4 separate regions of the Homo sapiens genome follow, and regions 1, 2 and 4 are each reported to be linked to region 3. Evidence: microRNA targets listed by miRTarBase, many of them from high-throughput screens and not tested one by one. Region 3 holds a microRNA gene; each other region holds the end of a gene's coding sequence.

Evidence for each region. The annotated mature microRNA hsa-miR-3135b reads GGCUGGAGCGAGUGCAGUGGUG and lies in region 3 at 2,176-2,197, opposite strand. An mRNA with a match to its seed (bases 2 to 7 or 8) in the 3' UTR can be bound and repressed. Matches are read on the target gene's strand: a 7mer-m8 pairs with bases 2 to 8, a 7mer-A1 pairs with bases 2 to 7 and ends in A, and an 8mer does both.
Region 1: miRTarBase lists IL2RA as a target of hsa-miR-3135b. Seed matches in the 3' UTR shown: 7mer-m8 at 1,686-1,692.
Region 2: miRTarBase lists WDR17 as a target of hsa-miR-3135b. Seed matches in the 3' UTR shown: 7mer-m8 at 1,378-1,384 and 7mer-m8 at 2,136-2,142.
Region 4: the mRNA of FLG2 is a reported target of hsa-miR-3135b. Seed matches in the 3' UTR shown: 7mer-A1 at 1,086-1,092 and 7mer-m8 at 2,005-2,011.

The regions. Positions count from the first base shown.
Region 1 is chr10:6,010,280-6,013,279 of GRCh38, reverse strand. IL2RA (interleukin 2 receptor subunit alpha) reads left to right here. Exons shown (of 8, transcript NM_000417.3): 8 at 384-2,591. The coding sequence ends at 408. Among named protein-coding and RNA genes, the nearest start is that of IL2RA-AS1, 24 kb to the left of the region's middle.
Region 2 is chr4:176,179,298-176,182,297 of GRCh38, forward strand. It overlaps WDR17 (WD repeat domain 17), which reads left to right. Exons shown (of 29, transcript NM_181265.4): 29 at 163-3,000. The coding sequence ends at 282. Among named protein-coding and RNA genes, the nearest start is that of SPATA4, 15 kb to the right of the region's middle.
Region 3 is chr6:32,747,777-32,750,929 of GRCh38, forward strand. MIR3135B (microRNA 3135b) reads right to left here and starts at 2,203; the gene lies at 2,136-2,203.
Region 4 is chr1:152,348,203-152,351,202 of GRCh38, reverse strand. It overlaps FLG2 (filaggrin 2), which reads left to right. Exons shown (of 3, transcript NM_001014342.3): 3 at 1-2,468. The coding sequence ends at 593. All of the region lies in intron 7 of CCDST (cervical cancer associated DHX9 suppressive transcript), which reads right to left. Among named protein-coding and RNA genes, the nearest start is that of FLG2, 10 kb to the left of the region's middle.

The DNA.
Region 1 (3,000 bases), not on the chromosome of region 3:
CACAACTGCAAAAGATTTCCATCATCTCAGAAAGTTCTATAGCACAGTGCTGGCTAGAAACCAAGTGCTTTACTGCATGCACATCATTTAGCACAGTTAGTTGCTGTTTATTATTCCTGTTCCACAGCTATTGTCTGCCATATAAAAACTTAGGCCAGGCACAGTGGCTCACACCTGTAATCCCAGCACTTTGGAAGGCCGAGGCAGGCAGATCACAAGGTCAGGAGTTCGAGACCAGCCTGGCCAACATAGCAAAACCCCATCTCTACTAAAAATACAAAAATTAGCCAGGCATGGTGGCGTGTGCACTGGTTTAGAGTGAGGACCACATTTTTTTGGTGCCGTGTTACACATATGACCGTGACTTTGTTACACCACTACAGGAGGAAGAGTAGAAGAACAATCTAGAAAACCAAAAGAACAAGAATTTCTTGGTAAGAAGCCGGGAACAGACAACAGAAGTCATGAAGCCCAAGTGAAATCAAAGGTGCTAAATGGTCGCCCAGGAGACATCCGTTGTGCTTGCCTGCGTTTTGGAAGCTCTGAAGTCACATCACAGGACACGGGGCAGTGGCAACCTTGTCTCTATGCCAGCTCAGTCCCATCAGAGAGCGAGCGCTACCCACTTCTAAATAGCAATTTCGCCGTTGAAGAGGAAGGGCAAAACCACTAGAACTCTCCATCTTATTTTCATGTATATGTGTTCATTAAAGCATGAATGGTATGGAACTCTCTCCACCCTATATGTAGTATAAAGAAAAGTAGGTTTACATTCATCTCATTCCAACTTCCCAGTTCAGGAGTCCCAAGGAAAGCCCCAGCACTAACGTAAATACACAACACACACACTCTACCCTATACAACTGGACATTGTCTGCGTGGTTCCTTTCTCAGCCGCTTCTGACTGCTGATTCTCCCGTTCACGTTGCCTAATAAACATCCTTCAAGAACTCTGGGCTGCTACCCAGAAATCATTTTACCCTTGGCTCAATCCTCTAAGCTAACCCCCTTCTACTGAGCCTTCAGTCTTGAATTTCTAAAAAACAGAGGCCATGGCAGAATAATCTTTGGGTAACTTCAAAACGGGGCAGCCAAACCCATGAGGCAATGTCAGGAACAGAAGGATGAATGAGGTCCCAGGCAGAGAATCATACTTAGCAAAGTTTTACCTGTGCGTTACTAATTGGCCTCTTTAAGAGTTAGTTTCTTTGGGATTGCTATGAATGATACCCTGAATTTGGCCTGCACTAATTTGATGTTTACAGGTGGACACACAAGGTGCAAATCAATGCGTACGTTTCCTGAGAAGTGTCTAAAAACACCAAAAAGGGATCCGTACATTCAATGTTTATGCAAGGAAGGAAAGAAAGAAGGAAGTGAAGAGGGAGAAGGGATGGAGGTCACACTGGTAGAACGTAACCACGGAAAAGAGCGCATCAGGCCTGGCACGGTGGCTCAGGCCTATAACCCCAGCTCCCTAGGAGACCAAGGCGGGAGCATCTCTTGAGGCCAGGAGTTTGAGACCAGCCTGGGCAGCATAGCAAGACACATCCCTACAAAAAATTAGAAATTGGCTGGATGTGGTGGCATACGCCTGTAGTCCTAGCCACTCAGGAGGCTGAGGCAGGAGGATTGCTTGAGCCCAGGAGTTCGAGGCTGCAGTCAGTCATGATGGCACCACTGCACTCCAGCCTGGGCAACAGAGCAAGATCCTGTCTTTAAGGAAAAAAAGACAAGATGAGCATACCAGCAGTCCTTGAACATTATCAAAAAGTTCAGCATATTAGAATCACCGGGAGGCCTTGTTAAAAGAGTTCGCTGGGCCCATCTTCAGAGTCTCTGAGTTGTTGGTCTGGAATAGAGCCAAATGTTTTGTGTGTCTAACAATTCCCAGGTGCTGTTGCTGCTGCTACTATTCCAGGAACACACTTTGAGAACCATTGTGTTATTGCTCTGCACGCCCACCCACTCTCAACTCCCACGAAAAAAATCAACTTCCAGAGCTAAGATTTCGGTGGAAGTCCTGGTTCCATATCTGGTGCAAGATCTCCCCTCACGAATCAGTTGAGTCAACATTCTAGCTCAACAACATCACACGATTAACATTAACGAAAATTATTCATTTGGGAAACTATCAGCCAGTTTTCACTTCTGAAGGGGCAGGAGAGTGTTATGAGAAATCACGGCAGTTTTCAGCAGGGTCCAGATTCAGATTAAATAACTATTTTCTGTCATTTCTGTGACCAACCACATACAAACAGACTCATCTGTGCACTCTCCCCCTCCCCCTTCAGGTATATGTTTTCTGAGTAAAGTTGAAAAGAATCTCAGACCAGAAAATATAGATATATATTTAAATCTTACTTGAGTAGAACTGATTACGACTTTTGGGTGTTGAGGGGTCTATAAGATCAAAACTTTTCCATGATAATACTAAGATGTTATCGACCATTTATCTGTCCTTCTCTCAAAAGTGTATGGTGGAATTTTCCAGAAGCTATGTGATACGTGATGATGTCATCACTCTGCTGTTAACATATAATAAATTTATTGCTATTGTTTATAAAAGAATAAATGATATTTTTTAAAAAGTCTTGGTTTTTATTATAAATATGATAAATATTGCTAGCTATAATCTACATAACCAAAAACCTTTATAGTTTTTTGGTGCTTTTTTTTTGTTTTTTTGTTTTTTTTTTTTTTGAGATGGAGTGTTGCTCCGTTGCCCAGGCTGGAGTGCAGTGCACAATCTCGGCTCACTGCAGCTTCTGCCTGCTGGGTTCAAGTGATTCTCTTGCCTCAGCCTCCCAAGTAGCTGGGACTACAGGCACCCACCACCAAGTCCAGCTAATTTTTGTATTTTTAGCAGAGACGGGGTTTCACCATGTTGGCCAGGCTGGTCTCGAACTCCTCACCTCAAGTGATCCACCCAACTCAGCCTCCCAAAGTGGTGGGATTACAGGCGTGAGCCACGGCACCCAGCCTGGTATCCTCTATAGT
Region 2 (3,000 bases), not on the chromosome of region 3:
GTCCAGCTCAAAAAAACTAATTTTCTCATAGTCTTCATTTTTTTATTAGCTTTGCCTAAATATTATGTTTTTTTTTATTGCAGTGATTCTCTTTCTGAAAGTTTAAAAATACTTTGCAAATTTATAATCTCATCTTCTCTTTCCTCAACTCTCACTGTGCAGGGCCCTGTGTTTTTCCTTGAAGACGGGAAATCTGCTATCTCCTTGAATGATGCTTTGATGTGGGCAAAGGTGAATCCATTCTCACCTTTAGGGACTGGAATACGACTCAATCCATTCTGATAGAAGATTTTTGTCCATGCTTGATTTTTTTTTTTAAAGAAAAACTTTCATGGGTTAGCATTACCTTAATCTTTGTTGCTCAAGTGCCAGAGGTTGGGAGAAGGATTGCAGGTTGGGAGAGGTGGGAAATAGCAGTGAATTTTAGTCATTAACTTCAAAATATATATATATATATAATTTAAAGGAAAAATAGGTGCCTCCTTTATAAACAGTAATAGCTACGTTTGGGAAGGAGGAAACATTTAAATTATAAAGGACTGAATAATCTAAAAAGCATATAAAAGTTTCACACAGCATAAAAGATACCAAAATATCATATGGTTGAAATATTGAAACATATTAAATTGTGCAACACCTAGAATAGTGCTAGACATACAGTAAGTACTTAATGGATATTTGAATGATTGAATATCTTGAAATGTTGAAATGTAAGGTGTGCACAGTGATCTTCAACTTAACAAACACTTACGTTCTCCTTTATAAAATGCATAGTAAACCACTAACGTTAGCTGTTTTAATAAAAGTTTTCAGTTATAAGTTTAGTAAATATTAATAAATGGATACACATTCAAAATACTTTTAAAAAAAAGAAAATGTTACCAGTTTTTTTATCTGAAGTTTAACTGTCCCATTGTAAAGGTGTAAGTTATATAGGCTTGAAAAAAATTGGCGGGTAAAAATCACAAAATGCAGTCGAATATATATATGAAAACTTGCATTAGGTGATAAAGTGACTATTTTAAGAGATTCAGCATGCATGGATATTAGTTTTGATTAATGTGTACAATAATTTACACAGTATACTCTAGTCAATTTATGTTAACTTTATTTAAAACACAATTTATTTGGCCGGGCACGGTGGCTCACACCTGTAATCTCAGCACTTTGGCAGGCCAAGGCAGGTGGATCACCTGAGGTCAGGAGTTCATGACCAGCCTGGCCAGCATGGTAAAACCCTGTCTCCACTAAAAATACAAAAATTAGCCAGGCATGGTGGCGGGCACCTGTAATCCCAGTTACTTGGGAAGCTGAGGCAGGAGAATCCCTTGAACCTGGGAGGCAGAGGTTCCAGTGAGCCAAGATCGCACCACTGCACTCCAGCCTGGGCAACAAAGAGCGAAACTCTGTCTCAAAAAACAAACCAACAAAAACCACAATTGATTTGATGAAAATTAGTTTTAAGTAAATGTTTGTAAATAGATATTGGTTGAATTTTTGGATATATTATGTTGATTTAACTTTTAAAATGTTGTTTAAAAGTGTGAAGCTATGAAAAGCCTGATAATGTGACTACAGATATTTCAGTTGGACTAGAATTCTGACTTTGAAACTTATTAAATTAATGCATACTGGAAGTACTTTGATACTCAAGTTGTTTCACAAGATTTATAATATAGATGGTTTTGTTTGACTAAAGAATAATCTCATATAACTAGAATACTTGTGGCTTTTATTATCTTTAAACTTGTTGCATTTAAAATATTTTTAAAACCTTCTTAACAAAACTTCTTAAAACTGGAAAAAATATATATTATGTATCTATGTATCATATTTATCACATGACCACTTTTGATTCCTTAAAAAGACATTACAGGCTTAAATTCCATTTTATTAAAAAAAAAAAATTGCCTGTAATCCCAGCACTTCAGGAGGCCGAGATGGGCAGATCTTGAGGTCGGTAGATGGAGACCATCCTGGCCAACATGGTGAAACCCTGTCTCTACTAAAAATACAAAAATTAGCTGGGTGTGGTGGTGTGTACCTGTAGTCCCAGCTACCCAGGAAGCTAAGGCAGGAGAATCGCTTGAATCCAGGAGGCGGAGGTTGCAGTGAGCTGAGATCGCACTACTGCACTCCAGCCTGGGCGACAGAGCAAGACCACCATCTCCAAAAATTATATATATAAAAATAATTAATATTATAGAAGAGAATATACACAACTCAGAGATGCAATGGATAATATAAAAAGAGTACCTGAGATGTATTTTTTTAAACTCTTAGAGATATCTGTAACTCAAATTTTTCTTAGGTGAGGAGGATTATTAACTGGCACATATGTACTAAAAACCCCTCACTTAAAAATGGCAGTCTCAATCCTACTGTCATTCTTTTTATTTTAAAATAAATAAATAAGCCTATCTTTTTGTGCTTACATACTTAAAAGGATATCATTAAGTATATAAACAATCATTACTTCTGTATTTTTAATGAATGCAGGAAAATAATATTTTTATGTATAAAAGATGAAGAAAAAATTTTGCAAGTCTTTAAGCACATAAATACAACAGAATAGCCACCCAATTTCTGTCTGAAATCTAAATTGGATGGATTTGACCATCATTCTATTATCTTTGATTTCTACAATGTCTATATCTTATTACCTATAACTATTAATTTTTCATAGAATTATAAATGTCATTTGACTATGTCAATCTGTATATATTGTACCTTAATATGAAAAACAAATTTTTTAATTCATAAAAGTATTTTTATTAGATTTCATATGCATGAAACCCAAGCAAATTATATGAATTTATTTTACTATTTGAAAATGTTCATATTACCAATAATGTGGACAAATTACTTTGCAGGTTTAAATATGCCTCTGTAAAGGAAGAGTCTCATTAGACAATGATTTTTAAAGCATTGGAAAAATATTTTGCCTGTAAAAGTTAGTAACTAGGTGGTTCACAAAATTACAACATCAAAATAGTTACA
Region 3 (3,153 bases):
AGGCAATAATATAAGGGGGTATCTGAAAAGGAACAAATGCTTGTTCCTTACTTAGGGTTAGTGACAATGGAAAACAGATAGAAGTAGAAGCTACAGACCCATTTAGGGGCCCCAGCCCCCTGCTCCTCCCCCTTCCTGGCTAAGGAAAGCATGAGCCTATGAGAGAGAAATCCTAGGAAGAACAAGACAGTTGAGACAATGTAGCAGCAGTAGTGGGTGCTGTGTCCTACACTGGATTCGTGGTCTCCTAATAGAAAATCTCTCAGAGGAAATGGGTCCACAGGGACCTGAGAGCTCTAAACAGCTATGAAATCTGCCAGGATATTTCTGTCCATGCTATCTGCATCAGTGAGTTTAAAATGTAATAGGAGAAAAAAAAGAGACAAAACATTAACATAATAATTGATACAGCATAGTTTTGTACAAAGAAACCTAAATCCAAATACTTGACTCAGTATTTTGAAGCTAGTATTTTAAACTTTACTGGGTAAAGTATCTGATTGACATTTCTGAACCTTATTTTTCTCATCCACAATGTGGGAGTGATAATATTTTCCTTGCAGAGTTATTGACAGAATTTGAATAATCTTGGTATATAGACAGTGCCTTACACGTAGTATATAAATATATAAGAAAACACTGCAGTTATGTTTATAATGGATTTATTAAAAAGAATGGATCATATTATATGAAAAGTACATTTGTTTTCCTTAGCCCTTTAGTGATTTAGGAGATTCAAGCGTAGACGTAAAAGTGAGTTTCTTTTCATATGTTAACTGGAGGATTTTTTTCTTTCTTGAGAGGCTGAGATTGGGTTGCTAAGAGAACTCTTAGGACAAGAAGTTGTAATATTTGACTTCGGTTTTTAACTCTCTAAGGGGTATATTCCCTCCTTATGTCCCATAAATTTTAAGTCAAGGTGAATTATATGCAACAGCAGTTTATCCATATTTACTTTGGGGAGGAGGTGGGGAGACTCCGGGAGAAAATAATTATAAATGCAGACTGGGAATTAGTAAGTGCAGGGAATCTGAACCAGTGGTGATCATGAAAACGTCCATCACAGAACACAGAGGATTTTTAGGGCAATGAAACTACTCTATTTGATACCACAATGGTGAATAAATATCATTATGCGCTTGCCCAAATCCATAGAATGTACAACACCAAGAATGAACCTTAATATAAACTATGGACTTTGGGTGATAATGATGTGTCAGTGTAAGTTCATAAGTTGTAGCAAATGTACCTCTGTCATGAAGGATGTTACTAGTGGGGGAGGCTATGCATGTGTGGGAACAGAGAGCATATGGGATACATCTATCTGTACTCTACAATTTTTCTGGGAACCTAAAACTTCTCTAAAATAAACTCTATTAAAAAAAAAGAAAAGAAAAGGTCAACAATAATGATCCCAAATATATAAAATTAAAACTGTAGTATAAAAATGGTCACATGAAAATGCATGAATGTGCTAAGAACTTTTCTGCAATAGGATTTAAAATAAATTTTATATAAATTTCAATGATTCATGAGCCAAGAACCCAGCATTCTGGAGGTGTGTGCATTTGTGTGTGTGTGTGTGTGTGTGTGTGTGTGTGTGTGTGTGTAAGGCTTACATTGAATGGCATTATAACCAGAGTCATACAGAAATACACAAATGCTCCCCTATTTAGAATCCTTCCCCAAGAAATACTGAGGAAAGCAAATATAATGGTAGTTGGATTTTACTGAAAGAATGTATTCAAAAAGTATTTATATAATGTTAAAATAGCATAGCTAAAATTAGTTTTATAAAATAGAGCAAATATATCTTTTTATCAGCTAAAAGTTCAAAGTGAAATCATCATTATTATATTATTATATTATTATTATAAACAGTTATAAATCAGGCTGCATGATTTTAAATTAAATGATTCTTAAAAATTGTTATCTGAATTATTTCAGATTACATACATAAAGTATGACTTCATTAATAGGTAATATCACATTGTTTAAATTTTACAAAATTTCCAGTCACAATGGTTCATGCCTGTAATCTCAGCACAAGGTGAGGGTCCCTTAAAGCCCAGGAGATGGAGACCAGTCTGTAGTCCCAGCTAGTAGGGAGGCTGAGGCAGGAGGATTGCTGCTTGAGCCCAGGAGTTCGAGGCTGCAGTGAGCTAGGACTGACTGCACCACTGCACTCGCTCCAGCCTGGGCAACACAGCGAGACCCCGTCTCTAAAAATAAATAAATAAATGAATAAATAAATAAAAATTACAAAACGTAAAAATCACGTAAAATATTTCAGGTTTGTACTTACCACATACAAACTAGAGATATGAAGAATTAAACATTACAAATAAAGCACTTCACACACAGTCTGGCCCATAGTAAGCAGTTTATAGAAGTTAACAAATTTGTGTTATTGTTATTTTCTGGAGTCCAAGACAAAATCCCATGATGAATGACACCACAAGGATGTAAGCAACAAAATTCAGAATATGAGAAGTTCTACTAGATTAAATAAAAAGATTTCTCCAGCAAACAATTTGCAAAAAAAGTTAAAAATAGAGAAAAGAAAAGCTATACACTTGAAAAAGACTGAAGAAATATAGTAACCAAACGCTGAGCTTTGTCTAGATTCATATTCAAACAAAACATCTGTTAAAAAATTTATATGAGGCAATCAGAAAAATTGACACTGAGTGTATTAAGGAATTATTTATCTCGTTTTAAATGTGTTAGTGGCATTGCTGTTATGTTTCTAAAAAGCCATTATATTTTAGATTTTCATAATAAAAATGTATAAATGAAATATGATACCTAAAAATATCTTCAAAATAATCCAGTATGTGCCTGTATGATAACTGGGTGGGTTTACAAAATTGCTCATGAATTGATTATTGTTAAAGCAAGGCTGTTGATACATGGAATTCTTCTCTGTACTATTGCACACAGTTGAAATTTTCTGTAATACAAAGGTTTTTTTTTTAAATGTATTCAGGAAAGTCCCATAAACATAGGCAGACAAGCATTCTGTTTGAAGTTATGTTAGTTTTTCAGTTTTTCTCATTTTTATCACATTTAGGAAACCCTGTCCAAGGCCTGCCCAAGACTGTAAGAACCTCTCAGGAATGCAACTATAAAGAATGTGTATGCAGGAACTAA
Region 4 (3,000 bases), not on the chromosome of region 3:
CACATTCAGGACACACTCACAGCCAAGCCGGATCTCGACATGGACAGTCAGGATCCTCAGGTCATGGGAGACAGGGAACTACTCATGGACAGACAGGAGATACCACTAGACATGCCCACTATGGTTATGGACAATCCACACAGAGAGGGTCCAGGACAACTGGAAGAAGGGGATCTGGCCACAGTGAGTCCAGTGACAGTGAAGTGCACTCATGGGGCTCACACACACATTCAGGACACATTCAGGGCCAAGCTGGATCTCAACAAAGACAGCCAGGATCCACAGTTCATGGGAGACTGGAAACTACTCATGGACAGACAGGAGATACCACTAGACATGGCCATTCTGGTTATGGACAATCCACACAGACAGGTTCCAGATCTAGTAGAGCAAGTCATTTTCAGTCACATAGTAGTGAAAGGCAAAGGCATGGATCAAGTCAGGTTTGGAAACATGGCAGCTATGGACCTGCAGAATATGACTATGGGCACACTGGGTATGGGCCTTCTGGTGGCAGCAGAAAAAGCATCAGTAATTCTCACCTTTCATGGTCAACAGACAGCACTGCAAACAAGCAACTGTCTAGACATTGACAGTTATTTTCTAGTTCTGACCTTATAGTATCCAAAGCAACTAAAAGAACAGGAAGACACAGTTTAAATCATGAACAGTCAATGGTAAGTTATGAACATTCAGTTGATTCTCAGTATCAGTCTCGACCTATTATTATAAGAAGTCAGGAATCTAGTCATGGACATTCTATAGTAACTCATAAACAGTCAAACAACACCTATGTTCAACCTGGATATAACACAGCCAGAAGGGAGGGATGTACACATAGCCAGTCAAATGACCACCTTGGATTTGGCCATGGACAATCCATATCAGTTCATGGCCATTCAAAATCTAGTTCAATCAGAAAACAGGAATCCCATACTGATAACAAAAAGCATTCAGAAGATTGGGAGAAAGACACTCATGAGCAATTAGGATCTAGGCATGGGAAGTTAGAGTTCAATACAATAGGTATACATGGATCTAGCCAGCAACATTTCGGAGATACAACTTTTCATGGGCAGGTAAGATCCAGCACAGGTTTTGCCAGATAGGTATTAAGTCATGGGCCATCAAGAGATGCCTAGGGTCAGTCTGGATTCAGTACCAATGAAAGACAAGTATACAGCCATGGCCAATCAAATGATAGTTATGAGTAGTCAAATGACAGCAAAAGTCAAAGATACATTTTCAGTCACTTTCTTGACAGCCAAGACCCTGCAGGAATTGAAGAGTATAGGTATAGATATTCATCAAGCAGTGCAACCATATGCAGTGGGGGAGACAAAGGCAAGAGTCAGAGTCAAGTCTGTCAGGAGGTATCAGAATATACGGTGAGGATGTGGGCAAAAAACAAAGAGGCTCTGAGGCCAGCGGTTACCATACAAAGGAAAGAACAGGCTCTGGTTCCTTCTGCTTAGATAGCAACACCCCACTCTATGAATATGTCCAAGAACAAAGGAGTTATTACTTTGAATAAGAAGCCAACATAAACTAGCCCAAGATAAGAACTAACCCAGAGAAGAAATGAGACACATACATGAAATTAAGGTATTTAACATGATCTCCTCTTTTGGTAGTAAGGGTATATGTCTGTTCTTTCATTTTAACTATAGTTCTGTACTATATTACTTTTGTTTGGTGCCAGGTGTTTTTGTAAGGCTCCACATTCATTGAACTCCTTGGTTAGAAAATAGTGAATGAGGCCGGGCGCGGTGGCTCACGCCTGTAATCCCAGCACTTTGGGAGGCCAAGATGGGTGGATCACGAAGTCAGGAGTTCGAGACCAGCCTGGCCAACATAGTGAAATCCCGTCTCTACTAAAAATACAAAAATTAGCTGGGTGCAGTAGCGGGCACCTGTAATCCTAGCTACTCAGGAGGCTGAGGCAGGAGAATTGGTTGAACCCGGGAGGCAGAGGTTGCAGTGAGCCGAGATCGCACCACTGCACTCCAGCCTGGGTGACTGAGCAAGACTCCACCTTGAAAAAAAGAAAGAAAGAAAATAGTGAATGGAAGAAAAAGATAAACACCATTTGGGGCTATATTCAGAACTATATAATAAAGAGAGATTTGTGTGGTTGGGAATAAAATTAGGTTTTAAAAAAATTTCCGAATTTCAAAATTTGGATTTTCCAGATTTTGTTTTAATTAATTATTGACAAACCTATCCAAGGAGCTAAATGACGTGGTTTAGGAGCCAAAACGTCTCTAGAAACATTATAACACATCCCATCCTGAACAAAGAATGTTGTCATAGTTTCCCACATGAATATTCAGAATATTTGCATCTTTTTGTGTCACTACTGGAATTCTGTACAATTATATTTAAATTTATTGTCATGGCCTTCTGGATATAGGATCCAGAAAATTGTACTTCATAAAAATTGGCAATAAACATTTCATCAAGTTATAGTTTCTCTTCTCTTTCATCTCCACAAACACATAGTTTCCTGCCATGGGATCAGATGCAGTTTTCTTCCACCTCCACACAGCTAGATGGCAGTGAAGCACTCAGGTACTAATAATAAGGACTCCAAAGAAGACAAAACTCAACCATATCTGATCTTTTCCTCAATCTAATCGCTGTCCAATGCTTCTGTAAAGCATTTACAGAAAGGCTTTATACTGATGAGTTGACCTCAGATGTTCTGGTTAATCATGATCATCACAGCAATTATTATCAAACATAATCCCAAGAAGCTACTTTCTAAGACAACCCAAGCTCTGGAAATAAGAATTATACACCATGGATTTTCTCTGTCAAAGATATTAATGGAAGAATCACTATCAATAGAAGCTAATTGGGTCCAGAGGTTTCCAGTAGAAGAAAAACAGTTAAAAATATATTATTCCTGCCTATAAGGAGAAAATACATGAATTTATTATGAATAGTGAGAGAAGTAATGATGAGTAGAAGAATTATGTACAAAATGCACTATCCTCA